3 linked regions of the Homo sapiens genome follow. The protein of the gene in region 3 interacts with the protein of the main gene of each other region in a pairwise test. Each region holds a gene or a part of one and is shown on either strand. Other genes may lie near its edges.

What was found.
Region 1: the proteins of LCK (region 3) and UBAP2 interact in binary tests that used the Homo sapiens proteins (3 or more experiments, as listed by UniProt).
Region 2: the proteins of LCK (region 3) and SH2D2A interact in binary tests that used the Homo sapiens proteins (3 or more experiments, as listed by UniProt).

What each region holds. Positions count from the first base shown.
Region 1 is NC_000009.12:33,926,888-33,933,887, reverse strand, and holds part of UBAP2 (ubiquitin-associated protein 2), read left to right. Parts: intron 1-259; coding exon 260-398; intron 399-1,259; coding exon 1,260-1,326; intron 1,327-5,895; coding exon 5,896-6,091; intron 6,092-6,807; coding exon 6,808-6,899; intron 6,900-7,000. UniProt on the Homo sapiens protein: Recruits the ubiquitination machinery to RNA polymerase II for polyubiquitination, removal and degradation, when the transcription-coupled nucleotide excision repair (TC-NER) machinery fails to resolve DNA damage. May promote the degradation of ANXA2.
Region 2 is NC_000001.11:156,806,849-156,813,848, forward strand, and holds part of SH2D2A (SH2 domain-containing protein 2A), read right to left. Parts: coding exon 7,000-7,000; intron 2,960-6,999; coding exon 2,813-2,959; intron 2,643-2,812; coding exon 2,355-2,642; coding exon of another isoform or gene 2,289-2,354; exon of another isoform or gene 498-2,288; coding exon 330-497; 3' UTR 327-329; exon of another isoform or gene 1-326. UniProt on the Homo sapiens protein: Could be a T-cell-specific adapter protein involved in the control of T-cell activation. May play a role in the CD4-p56-LCK-dependent signal transduction pathway. Could also play an important role in normal and pathological angiogenesis.
Region 3 is NC_000001.11:32,275,265-32,282,375, forward strand, and holds part of LCK (tyrosine-protein kinase Lck), read left to right. Parts: intron 1-56; coding exon 57-155; intron 156-304; coding exon 305-408; intron 409-649; coding exon 650-799; intron 800-1,072; coding exon 1,073-1,225; intron 1,226-1,342; coding exon 1,343-1,522; intron 1,523-4,406; coding exon 4,407-4,483; intron 4,484-4,576; coding exon 4,577-4,730; intron 4,731-4,814; coding exon 4,815-4,946; intron 4,947-7,111. UniProt on the Homo sapiens protein: Non-receptor tyrosine-protein kinase that plays an essential role in the selection and maturation of developing T-cells in the thymus and in the function of mature T-cells. Plays a key role in T-cell antigen receptor (TCR)-linked signal transduction pathways.

The DNA.
Region 1 (7,000 bases), on a different chromosome or scaffold from region 3:
GGTTGGGTTATAAAGGTGTCATTTCCTATTCTTTGCTGCATCTTGAACAGCTGACCATGGTGTGGTGTCCTTTGATAGTGTTGTTTGACAGACAAAGGGCTATCTGGCGATATGCTTGGCATTTTCCTGGGGAATGTAACTTTATGGACGTCTCAACTGAGGCTGACATGTCACAAGATATTGAGCATATTTTCAGGCACTTAGGATTGGTTTTAGAAATAAACAGATCTGCTTCTTACAGCTACTTCATCTGTTCCAGCTCCAAAGACAACAGGCCCTCCCTCTGCCCTCCCGTCTGTGAGCTCCCTGCCCAGCACCACCTCCTGCACTGCACTTCTGCCGTCCACATCCCAGCACACTGGCGACCTGACTAGCAGCCCTCTCTCTCAGCTTAGCAGGTATGGGGAAGGTGTGGGCCCAAAGTGAGAAGTACCTTGGGGCAAGTCCTGGAGCTCCTGTAGAAGGTTGCTTTCATGAACAGAGCACACTTGTTGTCTCTGACGTGATGTCCTGGGCTTTTGCATTACGACTGTAGCTTAGGTTTTGGCCAGGTTGTTCCTTAAAACCACCAGATATGGAAACCTTGCCTGCTTGTACCGCCTCTGCTGGCACAGAGCACTGGGTCCCCTGGGAGTAGGGTGAGGCCAGCAGCTCCCTCCTACCTGTCTTCACCCTCCAGAGGGTGCCTGAGCCTAGCCTCTCTGGGCATCGCTGGGCCCATGTCACTGAGGTGGAATGAGAATGATGGATTTCTGAGCAGGTGTCTGACTTGAACTTTCCATGGCTGAAGAAACGATGTTATTAGAACAAGGTGTAGGAAAATGGGTGGCGTTGCTACCTGTGTCTTCTGAGGAGTGTTCTCCATCACTCTTTAGCTAGGAGCAAAAGTGGATTTGATGGGAATTGGCATGTGGAGTTGAGCATAGGAACTTTGATCCCTCGTTCACAGATTGAATGGGATTGTCAAGGATGACCGTGTTCTTAGTGCAACTCTGTCTTCACTTTTCGCATCTGAGGAGCAAATGGATGTCGTTGAGGGAAGCTGGCTCTGGAGTTTTCCAGACCTCATGGCGAGTCATTCCCGTCCACCAGGACCCCATCACTGGGCTCTGTGGGGATAAGGAATGAGGATGGGTCTGAAGCCGGTCCTGTGCTAGGGACTATGATAAGTTTGAATCTAGCTCACTGACCCACGTGCGTCTTGTTCATCTGGAGTCACTTGTTCAGGTGGACATACGGCGCTCTGTTTTGTCTTCTAGTTCGCTCTCCAGCCACCAGAGCAGCCTCTCTGCACATGCAGCCCTCTCCTCGAGCACGTCACACACAGTAAGTGTCTGCGCGGCTTCCTCTTCCTCCGCCATGCTTGGGGAGCCTGGAGCTTAGTCACATGCAGCTGGGGCTTCAGTCTGATTTTTAGTGTCTGATAATCTAGAGTTGCTTGGCTGAAATGTCTTGATGGCATGATCTGGTTCGAGCTTCTGATTTCCTGGGCACCATCTGGGGACATCTTGCTTTCTAAGTTTGTAGCGCCTGGGAAGAATCATTGCTCCAGACCTTATCTGTCATTGGCAGGAGTGTCAGGTGGTGACCTTGCTCCCAGGAATTTGCTGTTTGATCTTTCCTCGTGCCTTCTTTCCTGACTCAGACGCAGAGATTGCAAGAAGGTCAATGTTGGAGAAGGGAGTCTAGATGGTGGAGGGCAGGAGTGGAAGCAAACATGCACTGCCGAGAAGCCAGGCAGGAGGGCTGGAGTCGGCGCGCCAGCTTTAATTTTCCTCATATGCCAAAGAGTAGCCCTAGATTATGGTTATTGAGGTGTGGCTCAGTGGGTCGTGGAGCCGTGAGCATGGCTTTCAGTGGTAGGAGTCAGCCAGATTGTGGTGGGTTGCGGAGTGAATGGTAGTGAGATGGAGAGGAGGGAGGAGGATTGTAGAGGGCATGCAATGAAAACTTAAGAGAGGCTGGAGCCTCTATTGGGAGGATAGAAAGGTGCCTGGATTAACAAAAAGTGCATGCTCCTGGACAACAGGAGGTGTTGGGCGAGGTTGGAGTAGGCAGGTCCACAGGCTGGGAGGAAGGATTAGGGTGCAGACGAATGGAGGAGGCAGGAAACTGATGAACTTGGTGTCCTCTGAAGAAGACAGCAGCTCACCAGCAGAGTGAGGTGGTGGAAAAGGGACATCCTGTCCTTTCCTCTGGATCTGGCTAATGCTGTGGCTTTCATACTCTAGTGTTCCAAGTCAAACCTTACACAGAATCTTTTATCATAAAACACACAAACTGCCACTTTCAAAGGAGAGCATAGTGTGGACACCTCTGCCTGTCCCTCTGCCCCTGCCCTCTGTGGCTCATGGGAGTGGTGAGCTGACCTCAGCAGGAGTGCCGTGGAGCTGTCCTCTGTGTCCGTGCCACTGCTGCCTGGGAGCCCAGTGCTCCTGCACTCATGGGGAGCTGCACTCTCCATCTCCTCAAAAAAAAACCTCCAGACCATGTATTCCAGCCTGCCACAGCCAGAATCGTCTCATCCAGTGGGTCCCATACTTTGTCAGCATGACAGAACTGTGACATTGCTAATACAGTTGTCCCTCCATATATGCAGGGGATTCATTCCAGGACCACTGCATACACCAAAATCTGCACATTCTCAAGTCCCACAGTTGCCCCTGTGGAACCCACCTATAGGAAAAGTCAGCCTTCCAAATATGGGTGTTTTCAAATTATGTATGCGTGCATTGGGTTGAAAAAGAAATCTGCCTGTAAGTGGACCCATGCATTTCAAGCCTGTGTTGTTCAGGGGTCAACTGTTTGTTCATAATATTTCATCTGAAAAGTTATGGAAAGATAGACAATGAAAAGTTTTTCTGTCTCTCATCTACTTGGCTCTACCCTTACATTTTCTCCATCCTTTTAATAAATAAAAGTCAAAACACGCAGTGCATACATGTAGTCATTTCCCCATTATCATCCGCTTTTTTTTTTTTTTTTTTTTTTTGAGATGCAGTCTCACTCTGTCGCCTAGGCTGGAGTGCAATGGCGCAATCTCAGCTCACTGCAACCTCCACTTCCCGGGTTCAAGCGATCCTCCTGCCTCAGTCTCCTGAGTAGCTGGGGTTACAGGCGCATACCACCATGCCCGGATAATTTTTGTATTTTTAGTAGAGACGGGATTTCACTATGTTGGTCAGACTGGTCTCAAACTCCTGACCTCGTAATCCACCCGCCTCGGCCTCCCAAAGTGGTGGGATTACAGGCGTGAACCACCGCGCCCGGCCATCATCTGCCCTTTTTATTCTTTTTCTCTTGTTACATAAATGAGAGTATTTTATGTACAGTGTCCTTCAACTTTTTTTTCCCCACTTGTGTATCCCCACAAGTGTATCTTGATGTTTCCATGTTGAAACTTAAGGGTTTTTTGTTGTTGTTGTTGTTGTTTCCCCACAGTTCTGCTTTATGATGTTATTTAAGGTTATTTAAGCAGCCGTCCATTTAGGGTCGTTTTCAGTCTTGATACCACAGAGAATGTTGCATTTGATAACCTACATATGTTGTTTCATGTGTATAGCTGTATGTAGCGGGTCAGTACGTGATGTGGAACAGCAAGGCATTTATGATTTTATACACATTTGCAGATTGCCCCGCATAGTGATTCAACCCTGTTTACCTCCCACTGGCGGTGAATGAAATATCCTATTACACCATGGCATCCTCAAAATGGTGTTATTAAACATTTGTATTTCCTTAATATGTTAGCAGAAAAATGGCCCATCAGTCTAGTTTTTAATGAGGTTGTACATCCTTTTTTTTATATATTTGAAAACCATTTGATTTCCTTTATGTGAGTTTTTAATTTTTATTTTATTTATTTATTTCTTATTATTTTTCTGAGACGGAGTTTTACTCTTGTGGCCTAGGCTGGAGTGCAATGGCATGATCTCAGCTTAGTGCAACCTCCACCTCCCAGGTTCAAGCAGTTCTCCTGCCTCAGCCTCCCTAGTAGCTGGGATTACAGGCACACGCCACCAGGCCCAGCTAATATTTTTATTATTTTAATAGAGGCAGGGTTTCACTGTGTTGACCAGGCTGGTCTCAAACTCCTGATCTCAGGTGATCCACCTGCCTCGGCCTCCCAAAGTGCTGGGATTACAGGCGTGAGCCACCGTGCCCGGCCTATGTGAGCTATTTATATTCTTGGTTCCTTTTTTTGTCAGGTCTTTGGTCTCTATTTCTATATTAGGGAGCCCTTGGTGATGGGAAGTACAGGTATTTTTCCCTAAGTTTGCTGTTTATGATTTTTTTTTACATAGATCTGTGTATTTTCTTCCATTTTCTTGTAGTTATATCTTTACCACTCTCCATCAATACATAAAGGAAATCTTAGCATCTTCTCCTGCCTTTACTTCTCTGGGCCTGTCCTGGGGAGTTGACTGCATAGGGCCCATTGGATGGACTGAGCGAAGCCTTGAAAATTAGTGTTGACTTTTTAATTCAGCAGGTTGATGTACTCCCAGTTCTGGAAGATGAGGGCCAGAGACAGGAACCCTGTCAGGCAGCTAAGGGAGAAGAGACTTGCCAGATGACTCTTGAGTCCCTTTCAGCAAGTCAGGACCTAGTTCCCTAGTGAGCATCTCTTAGCGATGGAGAATGTTCATTTTTCCTTCCGAGATTAAAAGGTTGTATATATCCAAGTACACTTGCGAGCACTGGTCAGAGCTGCTCCAGATTTCTGTGGCAGTTGGTGGGGAGTCTGCCTCCTTAGTGAGAACCTAGTTGGTGGGCAGGCCAGTGCATCCTTTGGCCCGCTCCTGGTGGGGCTCTCTCCGGCCTGGTCCTGCCCATCTGTGCTGAAGGAACAAGACGCCTTGGAGCCCCAGGAAACCATGTTTTTGGCTGTCTTTACCTTGGTGAATCTGTTCTGGATGTTAGCTCTGTAAAGCCAGTGCCCAGGCGGGTAGTGACCTGTGGGCATGGGATGGCGGCGGAGAGTTAGTCTGCGCAGGCAGGTTGGGTCCTTCTCCTGGGCCCTTCCCGTTCTTTGGCTTTTCTTCTACGAGTTTATATGCTGCTTTCTATGTCCTGGTTTGGAGACTGGTCTCCCTCTTACAGAGCTTTTCTTCCCTTTTTTGAGACTTGCCTTGTCCACCTAGGTGTGCCCCCCACCTACCTGCTCGGAGCTTGAAGTTCTTCATAGGACCCTGTTGCTAGGGTTGGGCAGCTAGGCAGGGCTTCTGGGACTCGGGGCTGATGGAGCATCCGCTGGTTCACTCTTTCTTCACAGGGGTACCTTGTCAAACAGGCATAAGTGGCAGGCCATGCCCTTTTAGGTGGGCACTGGTGAGGCATTGGTGGACTGAAAGGTGTCACCAGGTTTTGGAGCAAAGGCCTCTCTCAGCCTCCTGTTTCCAGACCACAGTGGCTGAGAATCCCAATAGAAGGGAAATCTCCAAAAGATTGAGACTTACGCTGGGCTTCCTGTGGCCTGTGCTCGCCTCTTCTCAGACTGTTTGCTTTGCTCTGAGGTAGGTACTTGTCCCATATTCAGATAGTCTGTGTTCATTTATGATCCGAAGTTATCTTGGGATTTCTATGCCCTCATTTTGGATGCCAAGCATGAGCAACTTGAAGGATTTTTACAGAGAGTTGTGGTCATTAAAGCTTAATGTTAATAGTTTTGATGTTCAGTTTATGTATTGTATCCTGATGGCTGGAACCAGCTGCTATGTGAGGGGCCGCAGTGAGCACTGAGCACAGAGCCTCTCACCTTAAGGGAGCCTGGGTGGTTACATCATTGCCTGCCTGCTCAGCCTTGAGACTTGGGCCCAAGCGCCAGGCCAGGCTCTCCCCAGCACCCTCCTCCTCTGCCTCCAGATCCATGTGTCCTGGCTTTTCTTTTGCCAGCATGCCAGTGTGGAGAGCGCCTCTTCCCACCAGTCCTCAGCCACCTTCTCCACGGCAGCGACCTCCGTCTCAAGTTCCGCATCCTCAGGCGCCAGCCTGTCCAGTAGCATGAACACCGCGAACAGCCTCTGTCTGGGTGGGACCCCCGCGAGTGCATCCAGCAGCAGTAGCAGGGCCGCGCCCTTGGTGACCTCAGGTATTTGCTCCAGAGGCCTTTCCTGCCCACCCCTGAGCCCCTCAAAGGTGCCTGCTTGGCGTCCCAGGAAGGCAGTGCAGGTGTCAGGAGAGTCTCAGGCCCGCCGAGTGCGCTGCGTGTTCCACTGACCTTGAGGCCCAATCTCCCCACCCCTGATGGGGATGAATTCTTCCTTGCAGGATTCCTGGCCTCTGCGTGCTTCTAGCTTTTCAGTCTTTCCTCTTTGTTCTTTCCTGGAGCCGAGTTGACATTGTGACTTGGAGGGGCCAGGGATGACTTATGGTGGGCTCCACGACTGCAGACCTAGGCTGTCTGTAGGCCCAGCAGACTATGATTTGATGGTCGCTGCTAAAACCGACTTCGAACTCAGCCTGTCCCTCTCCTGGCACTGCATGGCTTCCTTGCCCTCTTTGGAGGAGGCAGATTCTTTTTATATTTCTCTTTGCTCAGTGCAGTGGGACCTTAGGGACTGGGGGAAAGGGGCTGCTTTTGTCTGGGCCCGGAACTCTCTGACGTTGAAACAACCTCAGTGTGGTGGCCGGGCTTTCTGTCTCCCCTTCACTGCTTTGTAGAATGACCCTCTGCCTCATTCGGCCACTGCCCTTCTTTGAACCCATCTGGGGTAGCTCAGTGACTGTGCCTCCTCCTGAAGCAGCTGAGGACTCTCACTCTTTGTGGTGACCATTTCACTCCATTTGATTTTTCCCTCTATACAGGCAAAGCACCCCCAAACTTACCTCAGGGGGTGCCTCCCCTGCTGCACAACCAGTACCTCGTAGGTCCCGGAGGACTGCTTCCTGCCTACCCGGTGAGTGTATGGCGGAACTCCTGGCCTGCCCAGCTCCCCTGGCCTCGGGGGCTGGCACCTGGCAGGAACCTGGCGTTGGGCCCAGGTTGCCCACCTTGAGC
Region 2 (7,000 bases), about 120 Mb from region 3:
TAAGGACAAATGTAATGCTGCTCATCCTCCCGCTCTTACCCGTGGCAGACATCACTAATCAATCATGTGCTTTTTTTCTGCTGAGTTCAGATATGACCTTAACATCCTTTCCAATGCAGCACTCTAGGCAGCCACGACCAATGGATTGGAGTTGGCATGCAAGATGACACCTCTTTGCCATCCTTGCAATAGATGATGGCTGAGCTCCTTTCCAGCTTTGAACACCTATGGTTTATTCCATCCACATTTCTTGAGAAGTGTGCCAGGTGTGTGTGAAGGTCTCTGGACCTGATGCTCCAAGTTATCCTCACCAAGCTCAGACTTACCGCCTACTGAGGAGGCCCAAGGGGAAGCCATGCCTGTCCTCTGTCCTGAAGCACCTGTCTAGAAAGATTGTGGGGGAGGGTGTGTCTCCAGGCGGGTGGGGGCTGGTGGGGCAGGGGAGGGCCTTGCCCAATCACAGAGTTCTCAGAATGCAGCTGGGAGCCACCTGTATTCTGCAGAGAGAAGGACAGTTCTAGGTCACACCCTCTACCCTCTGCCTCCTAGGTGTACTTGCAGTCTCAAGACATCTGATCTGAACAGACTTTGGCTTCCAGAGAGGGTATCTAAACTCCTCTCATTCATTAATTCAACAAACATCTCCTGAGCACCTGCTCTGTGCCAGGCACTGGGCTGGGTGCTTTGGAAACAGATGGGTAAGTCCCAGCCCCTCCCTTCAGGGAACTCACACTCTAAACTAGGGAAGGGACAGAGAGAAGGAGATGGGAGGAGATGGATGTCTCAGGTGATCAGTGGCATGGCAGGTGTGTGTAAGGCACAGGGGGTGGCCTCTGAGAAGGGAAAGCTGGTCTTGAAGGATGATTAGAAAGTTGCCAGGCAGCGGGAGGATGAGGTTGCAGGAAGTTGCTATAGGCAGAGATACTGGCGGGTGCAAACCCCAGGAGGCTTGAAACCACTTGGTGAGTTTAGAGAAATGTGAATCATTCTAGGAGAATGGGAGTGGCTGGTGGTAAGGCTAAGGAGGTGAGACCCCCCACCCAACCCAAGTCTAGAGTGCTTCATGGGCCAGGCAGCTGCTTCAGCAAGACCATTCTGGCTCTTTGGTGCAGAGTGGATCAGAAGTGGCAAGAATGGTGGTTAGGAAACCAGTTAAGAAGCTCTTGGGAGCCAGGTGAGGTGGCTCGAGCCTGTAATCTCAGCTGAGGTGGGAGGATCACTTGCACCCAGGAGTTCAAGTTTGCAGTGAGCTATGATTGTGCCACTGCACTCCAGCCTGGGTGACAAAGCCAGACCCCAATGATGGGGGCTGGAGCTGGGGGAAGGAAAAATATACTTAGGAAGAGATCCAGCAGGAATGAGTGGCTTACTGGGGGAGTAAAGAGGGAGCTGTGCTGAGGGAGCCCTGGGATTCTGGCTTGGCTAGCTGGGTAGCTGGAGAGTTAGCAATCAGGACAGTGAACATGGGACCGAGCTGTTTGGAGGGCAAGGGTGAGAGCGCTGTTGGCCGTGTTGAGTTTGAGGGGCTCAGGGATGCTGGGGGGAACTGACCAGAAGCTTGGAAAAAAGTTTGGACGGAGATATGGACAGGTGACGTTAGCTCTAGGACAGCAGACGTTGGCAGGGGTGTGGGTGAGCGCGAGCAGGCTCAGGCTGAGCAGGGAGCCTGGGGCACCAGCAAGGAGGGAGGATGGGGAAGGGTCTGAGGAGGGAGGCTGGGGAAGGGCTTTGGGAGGGCCGCAGAGGCCGAGGGAGAGGGTGGGATGGCTGCTGGGGCTAACCCATGGCATGAGGTACTGACTTGAAGGGTAGGCAAGAAGACTTAGGGCTGGGGAGAAGGAAGAGGGAGACAGGGAGTACACAGAAGCAGGCTGGGAGAGCAGGGTCCCCCTCCCCTGAGCTCACTGAGATGACATAAGGGAACCCAAGTGCTCTTTTTCTCCAGGACAGCAGGGCCGTGAAGGCCAAGGGAGAGAGCCAGAGAGGCACGGGGTGGGGTCAGCCCCAGGTGCGTCTGAAGAGGGCCTGCAGGACAAGATGGACGCAGATCAAAAAAGCCTCGATGTGGGAGGTGGAGGGGCACCCTGCCTGGGGGCCTCTGTTTTCTGTGTGAGATAGGAGGGCATGGGGGCTTGACAAAGATGAGGTCTGAGCGACTCTGGGGAGAAGAGGGGGCAGCCTCTGGGCCTGGAGAAGGGAGGCTGGTGCCTGGATCATTCTGTTCTTCCCACATCACCTCACACCTCTGCCCCTTACCCTGCCCCAGGCATCCACTCTGAACACCTTCTTCACCTTCCCCCATCTACCTGCAGGGAGACCTTCTTGCACCTACCTTTCCCTGCATACCCATTTACCTGGCCTCCTGGGACAGGCCTGGACCAGCTCTTCCGTAGGACAGGGTGCCCAAGGGTGGCGGGTAGGCCCTCATCTTCCACTTCCACATAGATGTTGCTGGGGGCTTCCCCAGGGCTGCCCCGGCCCATGGCATAGAAAGCTATGGGTTCATCAGGCTCATTGTAGATAGGATTGGAGGGCTTGGGGCGTGGGGCCGGGCGGTGTCGTGGAACAGGGATTGTGTAGACTTCTGGGGGCAGCTGAGGTTTGGCGGGGATGGGAGGCTTGGGCCTGAGCAGCTGGGAGGGCTGGGAGAGAAGGTGAGGCCAGGGAGGAGTGGGGTGAGGGAGGCAGGGTTAAAGCCCCAGCCTAACTCCCAGCCTGAGCCTCTGCCCCCGCTAGGCCCCTCCTCCTCCCCGCTGCCTGCACCCCCTCGCAGGCCTGTCCTCCCACTCCCTCAGCCCCTGCAGCCCAATACCTCCTTCTCCCCGGCCCCCTCTTTCTGCATCGGGACTGGGGCTTGCCCCTGTTTGATGATTGGGCTGTACTGGGGGTTTGGGTCCTGGCTTTTGCTTCCAAAGTTTGATTCTTCGGTCCTCAGGGAAAGTCCTGCAGGCTCAGGAGTCTGCTGGGAAAGAAGGAGGTCTGAGGCACTCGGTGGAGCGTTGGGGTGGGGGAGGTGATCAGGAGGACAAAATAATCCAGTCTAAGTGGAGGATGGGGGAAGGGGGAGGAGCACAGAAATTTGGCCTGGGCTGGGTTCCCTGGATGAGGAAGAGGGGGTGGTGACGGCAGGGAGACCCAGGGTTGGATGGAGGCAGTGGTAAGCTCTGGTCACAGGCCATATCTAGCATTAAAGTTTTTCTTTTTTAAGATAGAGTCTCACTCTGTTGCCCAGGCTGAAGTGTGGTGGTGCAGTCTCAGCTCACTGCAGCCTTGACCTCCTGGGCTCAAGCTATCCTCTTGCCTCAGCCTCCCAAGTAGCTGGGACTACAGGCATGTGCCACCACACCGGCTAATTGTGTTTTCATTTCTTGTAGAGATGAGGTCTCACTATGTTGCCCAGGCTTGGTCTTGAACTCTTGGGTTCAAGTGATCCTCCCACCTCAGCCTTCTTGCGTCTTAGGATTACAGGCGTAAGCCACCACACTTGGCTGCATTAAACTTAATTTCTTCTGGAACACAGGGCCAGGCCAGATTCCATTTGTGCCTGTGGTTCTGAAAATGCAACATGGCTTTACACGTCTTTAACTGAAAAATTATTGACATGGGGACCAATCTCCATGACAGCTGTGCTTGTGTTTATTTCTGTACTGCCGGTTACTTTATGGAAATATAAGCTATTTTTTTTTTTTTGAGACCAAGTCTCATTCTGTCATCCAGGCTGGAGTGCAGTGGCGCAATCTCGGCTCACTGCAACCTCCGCCTCCTGGGTTCAAGACATTCTCCTGCCTCAGCCTCCCAAGTAGCTAAGATTACAGGCGCCCACCACCACACCCAGCTAATGTTTGTATTTTTTAGTAGAGATGGAGTTTTGCCACGTTGGCCAGGCTGGTCTCGAAATCCTGATCTCAGGTGATCCGCCACTTTGGCCTCCCAAAGTGCTGGGATTACAGGTGTGAGCCACTGCGCCCGGCCATAAGCTAACATTTTTAAGGGCAGAGACCACCTCAGGAGAGAGGAGCCCCATGTGGGATGGTTCCGTCTCACAGAGGGTCTGCTTTTAGCTCCGTGTTAGCCCTTGGTCCATGAATGCTGTCCCCATGCCTGCTGCCACTGTAGGCTAAGGTCACAGGGCTTTTCTTGTGCTCCTGCAATCCACCAAGTGCATGTCTCCATCGGGAGGTGTACTGCAGATATACTGTGGAAATCAAAGAATTCTTTTTCCTGCCCTAACCCCCTCCTCTCTCAGCATCTCCTTCCGGAATAAAAAGTAGCACCTCCACCCTGCTGCCGAAACAGCACCTTAGGAGTCATCCTTGATGCCTCCACCTCCTCCCTCTTGACATGAAATCAAACACAAGTCCTGCTCCTTCCACTGTCTAAATATCGTTCACATCTGAGTACTTTTCTCCATGCACATGGCCAGCACCCTAGTTCAGGCCTCCTGACTCCTCCCCCTGCATCGTCTTGCCCTTCCAATCCACTCTCCAGTCTTCGAGCAGAGCAATCTTACAGAAACTCCCCTAGCAATCCTTGGGTGGCAGCCCATTGCCCCAGAATAAGTCAGACTCCTGAGAGCTTGAGTGACAAGACTCTGTGTGATCTCAGACTTCTACAGCTCTGCCTTCAGGCTTCTCAGGTCAGGCTGGCTCCTCCTCACCCCCAGACTTCCCTACGCCCTGTGAATCTCAGGTCTCTGCCTGTTCCTCACAGAAAAGGCAGTGACCACAGGCACTGTCCCCACTTGTTTTAACTGACCCAAATCAAGTTCTGTGAAACTCTTCTTGTCTAGGTCACCAATGACCTCCTCTCTGTCAAACCTAGTATCAATTCCACCCTCTGCCCTCACCCGCCTTCACTCACTTTCTTCGCTTGGCTTCCAGAGCATCACACTCTTCTGGCTTTTCTCCTCTTTCTGAGCGCTCTGCTCTGTTTTCTTTGTCAGTTCCCCCTCATTTCTGCAAACTCTAAATGCTGGAGACCTGGGCTTCATTTCCTTCCCACCTACACTGACTTCCGAGTGAGATTTCTCCCCTCCTAAAGGTTTTAGAGTCCATCTAAGTGCTGGTGACTCTCAATATTTGTCTGCAGCCCATCCCTTTGTCCCAGTCCCCAGACTCTGAATTCCAGCTGCCTACTTGACATCTCCATGCTGAACTGCACGTGTAGAAAACAGAACTCCTGATCACCTGCCTCCTGCCTGGATGTGTTCCTCCTAGAACTTTTCTCAACTCAGTCAATGACAAGTCCATCTTTTCACACTCCTCATCCAATCCCACAAAAACCCAGCAGCTCCACCTTCTGAGGAGACTTCCACCCTCCTCATGCCTCCTGGAGGCACCCACCTCTGCTACCCTGACCCAGGCTGCCATCATTTCATGTGAAATATTGCTCCTCCCGAAACTTGCCAGGCCATGTCACCCCTCAGCTTGTAAGTCTCCAGTGCCACCTCGTCTCGCTCAGAATAAAACTTCAAATGCATACAAGAGTCTACAGGGCCCCCCTCCCTCACCCCTCTGATCTCATCTCCTACCTCTCTATCCCTCAGTCACCGGATCCACCCATGCTAACTTCCTCTCTGCTCCCATCATTCCTCAGACACACCAAGTCTCCTCCTGCCTCAGGGCCTTTGCACCTGCTGTGCCTGCTGCCGAGAATGCTTTTCCTCCAGTTGTCTGCATGGCTCTTCTCCTATTTCATACAGGCCTCTATTCAGATGTCCGCTTACCCGAGTGGCCTTCCCTGACACCCTGTGTAGAACAGCCCCAATCCTGTCACTCTTCAACAATATTTCACATGAAATGATGGCAGCCTGGGCCAGTGTAGCAGAGGCAGGTGCCTCCAGGAGGCATGAGGAGGGTGGAGGCTGGGTCTGCTTGGAAGGTGGAGCTGCTGGTGGAGCTCTTTGGTTTTCTTGTCAGTGTGTACTCATCATTACTAGACAGACTCTGTCTTCTTTGCTTGTTATCCATATTACTCACTCGTCTGTCTCCTCCTTCTAGAATGGAAGCTCTTGAAGGCAGAGATATTCAGGTCATTTACATTCACTCCTGTTTTTCCAGTGCGCAGAAAGTTGCGTGGCACACAGTGGTCCCTCAGCACTGCCTGAACTTGTGCACCGCTGCCTGCTAGGCTAAATGGTACCCTGTATTTCTTCTTGAATCACAGTCTCCACCCTGGATTTCTATTACTTGTCTGTTTTTGCTGCTGGAAAGTAGGCTTTGTGAGTTTGAGATCCATCTGTCTGTCTTGTTCATGGGTCTGTTCTCAGGGCCTGCCAGCAGTTGGTAGGCCCTAAGTACTCCGTAAGTATCTCTTACATTAAAAAACAAATGACTAGGCTGGGCGCAGTGGCTCACGCCTGTAATCCCAGCTACTCAGGGGTCCCATTCAGGAGACCCCCGCATCCTCCCCTGGCCTCATCCTGGAAGGGCAGCCTGCAGGGGCTGCTACTGCAGCAACAGGGATGGGAAAGTAAGTAGTTGGACTTCCAGATTTCAGAAGTCAAAGCTGAAAATACCAGGTGGAAAATACCAGCATTCGAGGCCTTAGGGATAGGAGGATAATGGGGCCTAGAGGGGGGAAGCTGACTCAGGAGGCTGAGGCAGGAGAATCACTTGAACCCGGGAGGTGGAGTTTGCAGGGAGAGAAGATCGCGCCACTGCACTCCAGCCTGCGCGACAGAGCGAGACTCTGTCTAAAACAAAGCAAAAGAAAACAAAAAACAAAACCCCAAATGACTCTGTGTGCCCCTGGCCTCTCCTTGCCCCTCTGACTCCGTGTGGCTGGGCTGGTCTCTTAAGGACGGTCCCCCAGCACTCATATTTCTCGAAGGGCCTGCCACCCTCCCATGAAGATGAAGATGCCTGGGTAAGGGAGGCATGCCCGAGTGGTGTTTCGGGATGAGAAAGTGCCTGGTGCCGCGTCCTGCGCCTGGGCTCTGAGCGGGAGGGGCGCTGGCCCGAGACCCTGGGCTCTCTGGTCAGGGTCTGGGGCGCGTACC
Region 3 (7,111 bases):
GGAGGGTCTCAGGTCGACGGCTGAGCGAGCCACACTGACCCACCTCCGTGGCGCAGGAGCGGCGAGTGGTGGAAGGCGCAGTCCCTGACCACGGGCCAGGAAGGCTTCATCCCCTTCAATTTTGTGGCCAAAGCGAACAGCCTGGAGCCCGAACCGTAAGTGGGGACCCGTCGTGGGGGTGGGTAGGAGCAGATCTAGGGATCCTGGAGCAGGGAGTAGGCCTGGGGTGGCGGTGAAGGCTTGAGGGCCACGGAGGAAGATCCGACGACAGCCGACGGCCTTCGTTCGCTTCCGCCCTGCACAGCTGGTTCTTCAAGAACCTGAGCCGCAAGGACGCGGAGCGGCAGCTCCTGGCGCCCGGGAACACTCACGGCTCCTTCCTCATCCGGGAGAGCGAGAGCACCGCGGGTGAGCGGGCGGCGGTCTCGACCGGGCGCGGGGGTGCCCCGGGGTGTGCCCGAGGGGGGGCGCAGGGTGAGCCCGAGGTGGAGACACGGGGTGAGTCGGAGGGGGACGCGGGATGAGCCCGAGGTGGGGGCGCGGGATGACCCGGAGTTGGGGGTGCTGGGTGAGCCCAAGGTGGGGGCGCGGTGGCGGGCCAGACTCACTGCGTTCTTTCGTCGCTTTGTCCATCCATTCATTCATTCAGGATCGTTTTCACTGTCGGTCCGGGACTTCGACCAGAACCAGGGAGAGGTGGTGAAACATTACAAGATCCGTAATCTGGACAACGGTGGCTTCTACATCTCCCCTCGAATCACTTTTCCCGGCCTGCATGAACTGGTCCGCCATTACACCAGTGAGCCCGACGGGACCCCTCCCCCGTGCCCTATCAGCCTATCTCCCCTCAGTCCCCCTCAGGTGTCCCCCATCCATCTTTCAATGCCCTACTCCATTCCCCGCAGTGGGTGAGGTGTGGAACCTGACCCTACGGCCCCAAGTGTTTGGGTGACAGCCCCACACCCCCTTGCTAGTCCACTTCACCTAGATGGGGGCTTGGAGAAGTGGGGGAGGTGGTGTCAATACGAGGCCTGCCCTATTGACAGCCTTCACCCCTCCCTCGTCCTCGCAGATGCTTCAGATGGGCTGTGCACACGGTTGAGCCGCCCCTGCCAGACCCAGAAGCCCCAGAAGCCGTGGTGGGAGGACGAGTGGGAGGTTCCCAGGGAGACGCTGAAGCTGGTGGAGCGGCTGGGGGCTGGACAGTTCGGGGAGGTGTGGATGGGTGAGTGTGGCCTCCAGGACTGCCTGGGAAGAGGGGAACGGGAGGGGCCGCTGAGGTGATGAGAGTCCCAGGACAGCTGCCTGGCGACTTTCCCACTCCTTCCCTTCCCCGACCCAGGGTACTACAACGGGCACACGAAGGTGGCGGTGAAGAGCCTGAAGCAGGGCAGCATGTCCCCGGACGCCTTCCTGGCCGAGGCCAACCTCATGAAGCAGCTGCAACACCAGCGGCTGGTTCGGCTCTACGCTGTGGTCACCCAGGAGCCCATCTACATCATCACTGAATACATGGAGAATGGTGGGTGCTACCCGAGTCGGCTACCAGGGGATACTGCTCTCCCTGCTGTCCCTGCCAGAGGGTGGAAATACACCTTTTCTTCTGGCCCAAAGCTCAAGCAAGGAGGGTTTCTTGAGCTTTCCTGCCCCCTGGAGACTCACCTCCAGCCGGGCGCGGTGGCTCAGGCCTGTAATCCCAGCACTTTGGGAGCCGAGGCGGGCAGATCACGAGGTCAGGAGTTCGAGACCAGCCTGACCAATATGGTGAAACTCTGTCTCTACTAAAAATACAAAAAGTAGCCAGGTGTGGTGGCACATGCCTGTAATCCCAGCTACTCAGAAGACTGAGGCAGGAGAATCCCTTTAATCCGGGAGGTGGAGGCTACAGTTGCAGTGAGCTGAGATCATGCCACTGAACTCCAGCCTGGGTGACAGAGCAAGACTCTATCAAAAAAAAAAAAAAAAAAAAGACTCACCTCCAGGCATGAGAAAAAGGTGTATCCTCTGATCTGATCCTGTCTGGGGGCAAGCCTAAGGTGGCAAGAATGTTCTGGAAGAGCATTCACCCCAACCTTCCCTGACCTGCCATTCTGTTTGCCTTCTTCAAAGCCCTACCTTGATCTCAGGATGCTTGATCTCAGAAAGCAAGTGGGTCCCTAGCCCTGTTTCTCTCCCTTCTGCCCCTGAGCCCTAGGAGGGCAGATCTGCCCCCAAAGCCCTCTTTTTCAGTTCTGAGTGAGACCCCCACCCCTGCACCCCTCTTGGTCTGTTACTGGACAGAGTGAGAGCCCCAGGAAGAGGAATATGAGTTTCTAGCTTCAGCTTTGTTCACACCGATTTGCCGTGTGACAGGCCAAGTGCCTGCACTGTCTCTGGTGCTCAGTTTCCCCAAGTATAACAGCAGAAATCTAAATGGGCTCACCAGAAATAATACAGAGTATTCATCAAGGCCTCTAGAGTCTGACTGCCTGGGTCAGAAGCCTGGCTTCATGATTTTATGGCTTTGTGATAATTATATCACCTCTTTCTGCCATGGTTTCCTACTATAATAACGCGTTAGTAACTTCCTCACAGGGTCTTGTGAGGATGAAATAATTAATGCATACAGAGCAGTTAGAACTATGCCTACTTCCAGGTGCTGTGGCTCAAGCCTATAACTCCAGCACTTTGGGAGGCCAAGGTGGGTGGATCACTTGAGCCCAGAAGTTCAAGACCAGTCTGTGCAACATAGCGAGACTTCATTCCTACAAAAAAATGTTTAAAAATTAGCTGGGCATAGTGGTGTATGCCTGTAGTCCCAGCTACTTGGGAGGCTGAGGTGGGAGGATCACTTGAGCCCAGGAGGTTGAGGCTGCACTGAGCTGTGATTGCACCACTGCACTCCAACCTGGGTAACAGAGCGAGACCTTGTCTCAAAACAAAAAACCCACAAAACTATGGCTACCATATAGTAACTGATCAATAAGTTTGTTGCTGTTATCTGGCTCTGATTCTTTGGGAGTGTAAGATCTATCCTTTTTTCAGGAAGAGAAACAAGCTGTTCATTGGCTAATGGGAAATGGCAAATAGATTATGTCATGTGTATCTTTTTTTTTTTTGAGTCTCACTCTGTCCTCCAGGCTGGAGTGCAGTGGCATGATCTCGGCTCACTTCAGCCTCCCCCTCCTGGGTTCAAATGATTCTCATGCCTCAGTCTCCCAAGTAGCTGGGACTACAAGCATGTGCCACCATGCCTGGCTAATTTTTGTATTTTTAGTAGAGACAGGTTTTCGCCTTGTTGGCTAGGCTGGTCTCGATCTCCTGTCCTCAGGTGATCCTCCCGCCTTGGCCTCCCAAAGTGCTGGGATTACAGATGTGAGCCACCATGCCCAGCCTATCATGTGTATCGACTTTGATTGGTAGTTGCTTGTAGTGCTGGAGAAGGATTCTGAGGTTCATTGGAAGTGAGTGCCAGGAATGATTAGTAACATCTGCCATGGATACAATGGAAGAATGGCAGTATATCTATGTCTATGTATTTGCTGTGTGTAGGTGAGGTCTTTGTCTTTGGTAACTAGTTCAGCACTCAAAGTGGGGACACTCAGGTTGCTGTCATCCTTTTACAGGGTTTTAATCTCTTGGGAAGGGCCATTGGTCACTCACTGCATCCTAGCAACTCCCATCCATGTCCAGCTGCCCTCCACTATTAGAGAGGTGGTCCCTCAGACCCCCAGACCCCCTCTTTCTTATTCCATCCAATATATTCAGCACATAGTTATTGTTTCTTACTCTCGGCTGGGCACCAGGAACATGGATGGATGAAACAAGGTTCCTGTTGTCAGGGAAACCTGATTTTAGTTACAGCTACTGGGGAAACCAGAGTTTGTGCCATGGGAAAGTTCCAGCATGCCCATGGGAGTGTAGATGATGATCCAGTTTATTATGCCTGGTAGGATCTAGAGAGGCTTCCTAGTGGGGCAGTCTAGCAGGGCCACGAAAGAAAAGTAGAATTTTTTTTAGCAGGCAGAGATGAAACAAAGAGGCTTTGGGGTGAGAGCCTAGTGGTCTGAGTGCAGGATCTCAAAATTGCTAAACTGTTTGAAGTCAAAGGCAGAGTGGGGGAAAGAGAAGAAGCTACCAGTGTGGACCATGCCAAGCTTAGGATACTAGTTGAGGATTCTAGGTTCTACCTTATTGGTGATGAAAAACCTACAGATCCCTCCCAGCATGCTCTACCCTAGCCCCTCTGCAAAAAAACCTTTACATATCCTGGGCATCCTTACCCTGAACACACACTCCTCCATTCTCACTCTTCAATCTTCCTTTTCACATGTCAGACACACTTCTAGACTCCCAGTTGGAGGAGAAAGGTCTGGGGGCCTCCCCCTGGGGCAACTTGGGCCAGCAACTCTTGCTTCTGCCCACAGGGAGTCTAGTGGATTTTCTCAAGACCCCTTCAGGCATCAAGTTGACCATCAACAAACTCCTGGACATGGCAGCCCAAGTAAGGAGACTGGGGAGGGGGGCTGGGCAAGGGAACAGACCAGTGACGTGAAGACATCTGGCTCAGGACCGCTGATCTGTGTTTGGCCTGCAGATTGCAGAAGGCATGGCATTCATTGAAGAGCGGAATTATATTCATCGTGACCTTCGGGCTGCCAACATTCTGGTGTCTGACACCCTGAGCTGCAAGATTGCAGACTTTGGCCTAGCACGCCTCATTGAGGACAACGAGTACACAGCCAGGGAGGGTACGTGTGAGATTTAAGGGTGGTCTGGGCCCTGCAGGGTCTGGCCAAGCAGACCCAGGTGACCTCACTCTGCCTCCTCCTTAGGGGCCAAGTTTCCCATTAAGTGGACAGCGCCAGAAGCCATTAACTACGGGACATTCACCATCAAGTCAGATGTGTGGTCTTTTGGGATCCTGCTGACGGAAATTGTCACCCACGGCCGCATCCCTTACCCAGGTTAGAGCCAAGGGCAGGAACTGAAAGGGTGATGGGAAGGGCAAGTCCATGTCTTCCCATTCAATTCTTTCCAGTCTCAGAATCTGAAACTTTGTAGCTGCATCTCCTCTATCTTCTCAGGGGTATGAGTCCAACGTCCCCAGGCAGATGCCACATCTCCCAGGGCTGGCTTCCATCTCCGTATCTCTCTTTAATAACCCCAGCTCTTTTCTTTTTCTCTTTTTTTCTTTTTCTTTTTTTTTTTTTTTTTTTTTTTTTTTTTTGAGACGGAGTCTTGCTCTGTCTCCCAGGCTGGGGTGCAGTGGCGCCATCTTGGATCACTGCAACCTCTGCCTCCTGGGTTCAAGTGATTCTCCTGCCTCAGCCTCCCAAATAGCTAGGATTACAGGTACGTGCCACCATGCGCAGCTAATTTTTTGTATTTTTAGTAGAGACAGGGTTTCACCATGTTAGCCAGGATGGCCTCAATCTCCTGACCTCGTGATTGGCCTGCCTCGGCCTCCCAGTGTTGGGATTACAGGCGTGAGCCACCACACCCGGCCCCAGCTCTTTTCTTTAGTTCTGGCCCAGGCAGCCTGGTATGGTAGAAGAAGATCTAGCTCAGGAACAAGAGGCCTACCTTTTATCAGCAGATCTGCCACTGTTGCTAACTTTCTGTTTGGCTTTGTTCAGATCATTACTGTAACTAGTGAAGCTAGTCACTTCACTTCTCTAAGCCTCAGTTTCCTGATACTAAAAATAAGAGACTAGGCCAGGTACAGTGGCTTATGCCTATAATCTCAGAACTTTGGGAGACCAAGGTGGGAGGACTGCTTGAGCCCAGGAGTTCGAGACCAGCCTGGGAAACTGGTCGAAACCCCATCTCTACAAAAACAAAAGTTAGCCAGGTTTGGTGGCATGTGCCTCTAGTCCCAGCTACTCAGAAGGCTGAGGTGGGAGGATCACCTGAGCCAGGGAGGCAGAGGTTGCAGTGAGCCAAGACCATGCCATAACACTCCAGCCTAGGGCAATAGACCAAGACCCTGTCTCAAAACAAGAAAAAGAGAGACTCCATCTCTACAAAAAAAAAAAAACAAACAAACAAAAAAAACATTTAAAAATTAGCTGGGCATGGTGGCACACACCCGTAGTTTCAGCTATTTGGGAGGCTGAGGTGGGAGGATCATTTGAGCCCAGGAGGTTGAGGGTGCAGTGAGCCATGATTGTTCTATTGCACTCCAGCCTGAGCAACAGAGAGAGAATTTGTCTCAAAAAAAAAAAAAAAGAAAAAGAAAAAGAAAAAAGAAAAAATGAGAGACCATTTGTGAAAGAGCCTGACTCATAGTAGGTTGTCAGTATACACTGACTCCTCCCACCATCTCCTGGACAAAGCCCTTTACCCCTGAATTCAGCCAAGACAGGGATGGAATTTTTGAAAGGAACTTGCTAAGAAACTCTGGGGAAAGGAAATGGAGCATAAAGACAGGAGTAGGGGGGTCATGCGGCACAGTGGCTAGATTTGTAGAAGCTTCCCATATCCCCAGAGCAAGGTGAACAGACCTTTGCTCCAAGGAAGGTAAAGACACCTTGGAAGGCCGGATGCAGTGGCTCACACCTGTAATACCAGCACTTTGGGAGGCCGAGGCGGGTGGATCACAAGGTCAGGTGTTCGAGACCAGCCTGACCAACATGGTGAAACCCCGTCTCTACTAAAAAAAATATATATAAAAATTATCTGGGCATGGTGGCACGCGCCTGTAACCCTAGATACTCAGGAGGCTGAGGCAGGAGAATTGCTTGAACCCAGGAGGCAGAGGTTGCAGTGAGCTGAGATCATGCCACCGCACTCCAGCCTGGGTGACAAAGTGAGACTCTGTTTCAAAACAAAAACAAAAACAACCACCTTGGAAACAGGTGAAAAGCTGAGGGGCTTCCCTGCCCTGGGCTTGCCCCAAACCAGCGTCCAGGGGTAGTGCTGGAGCTGGAAATACAGAAATATTCTCCAGTTATCCTGCCAGGGGTCCTCACTGCTCCTTCCCGGTTCCCACAGAGGCAAACCCATAGGGAATGTATCTATTAGAAGAAAATAGGCAGTGAAAGCATGATGATAAATGGCAACTGACATATAGCATTAGGGTCAGGGAGACAATGGGGAGAAATGGGGACCTTGGTAAACTTGCAGCTGC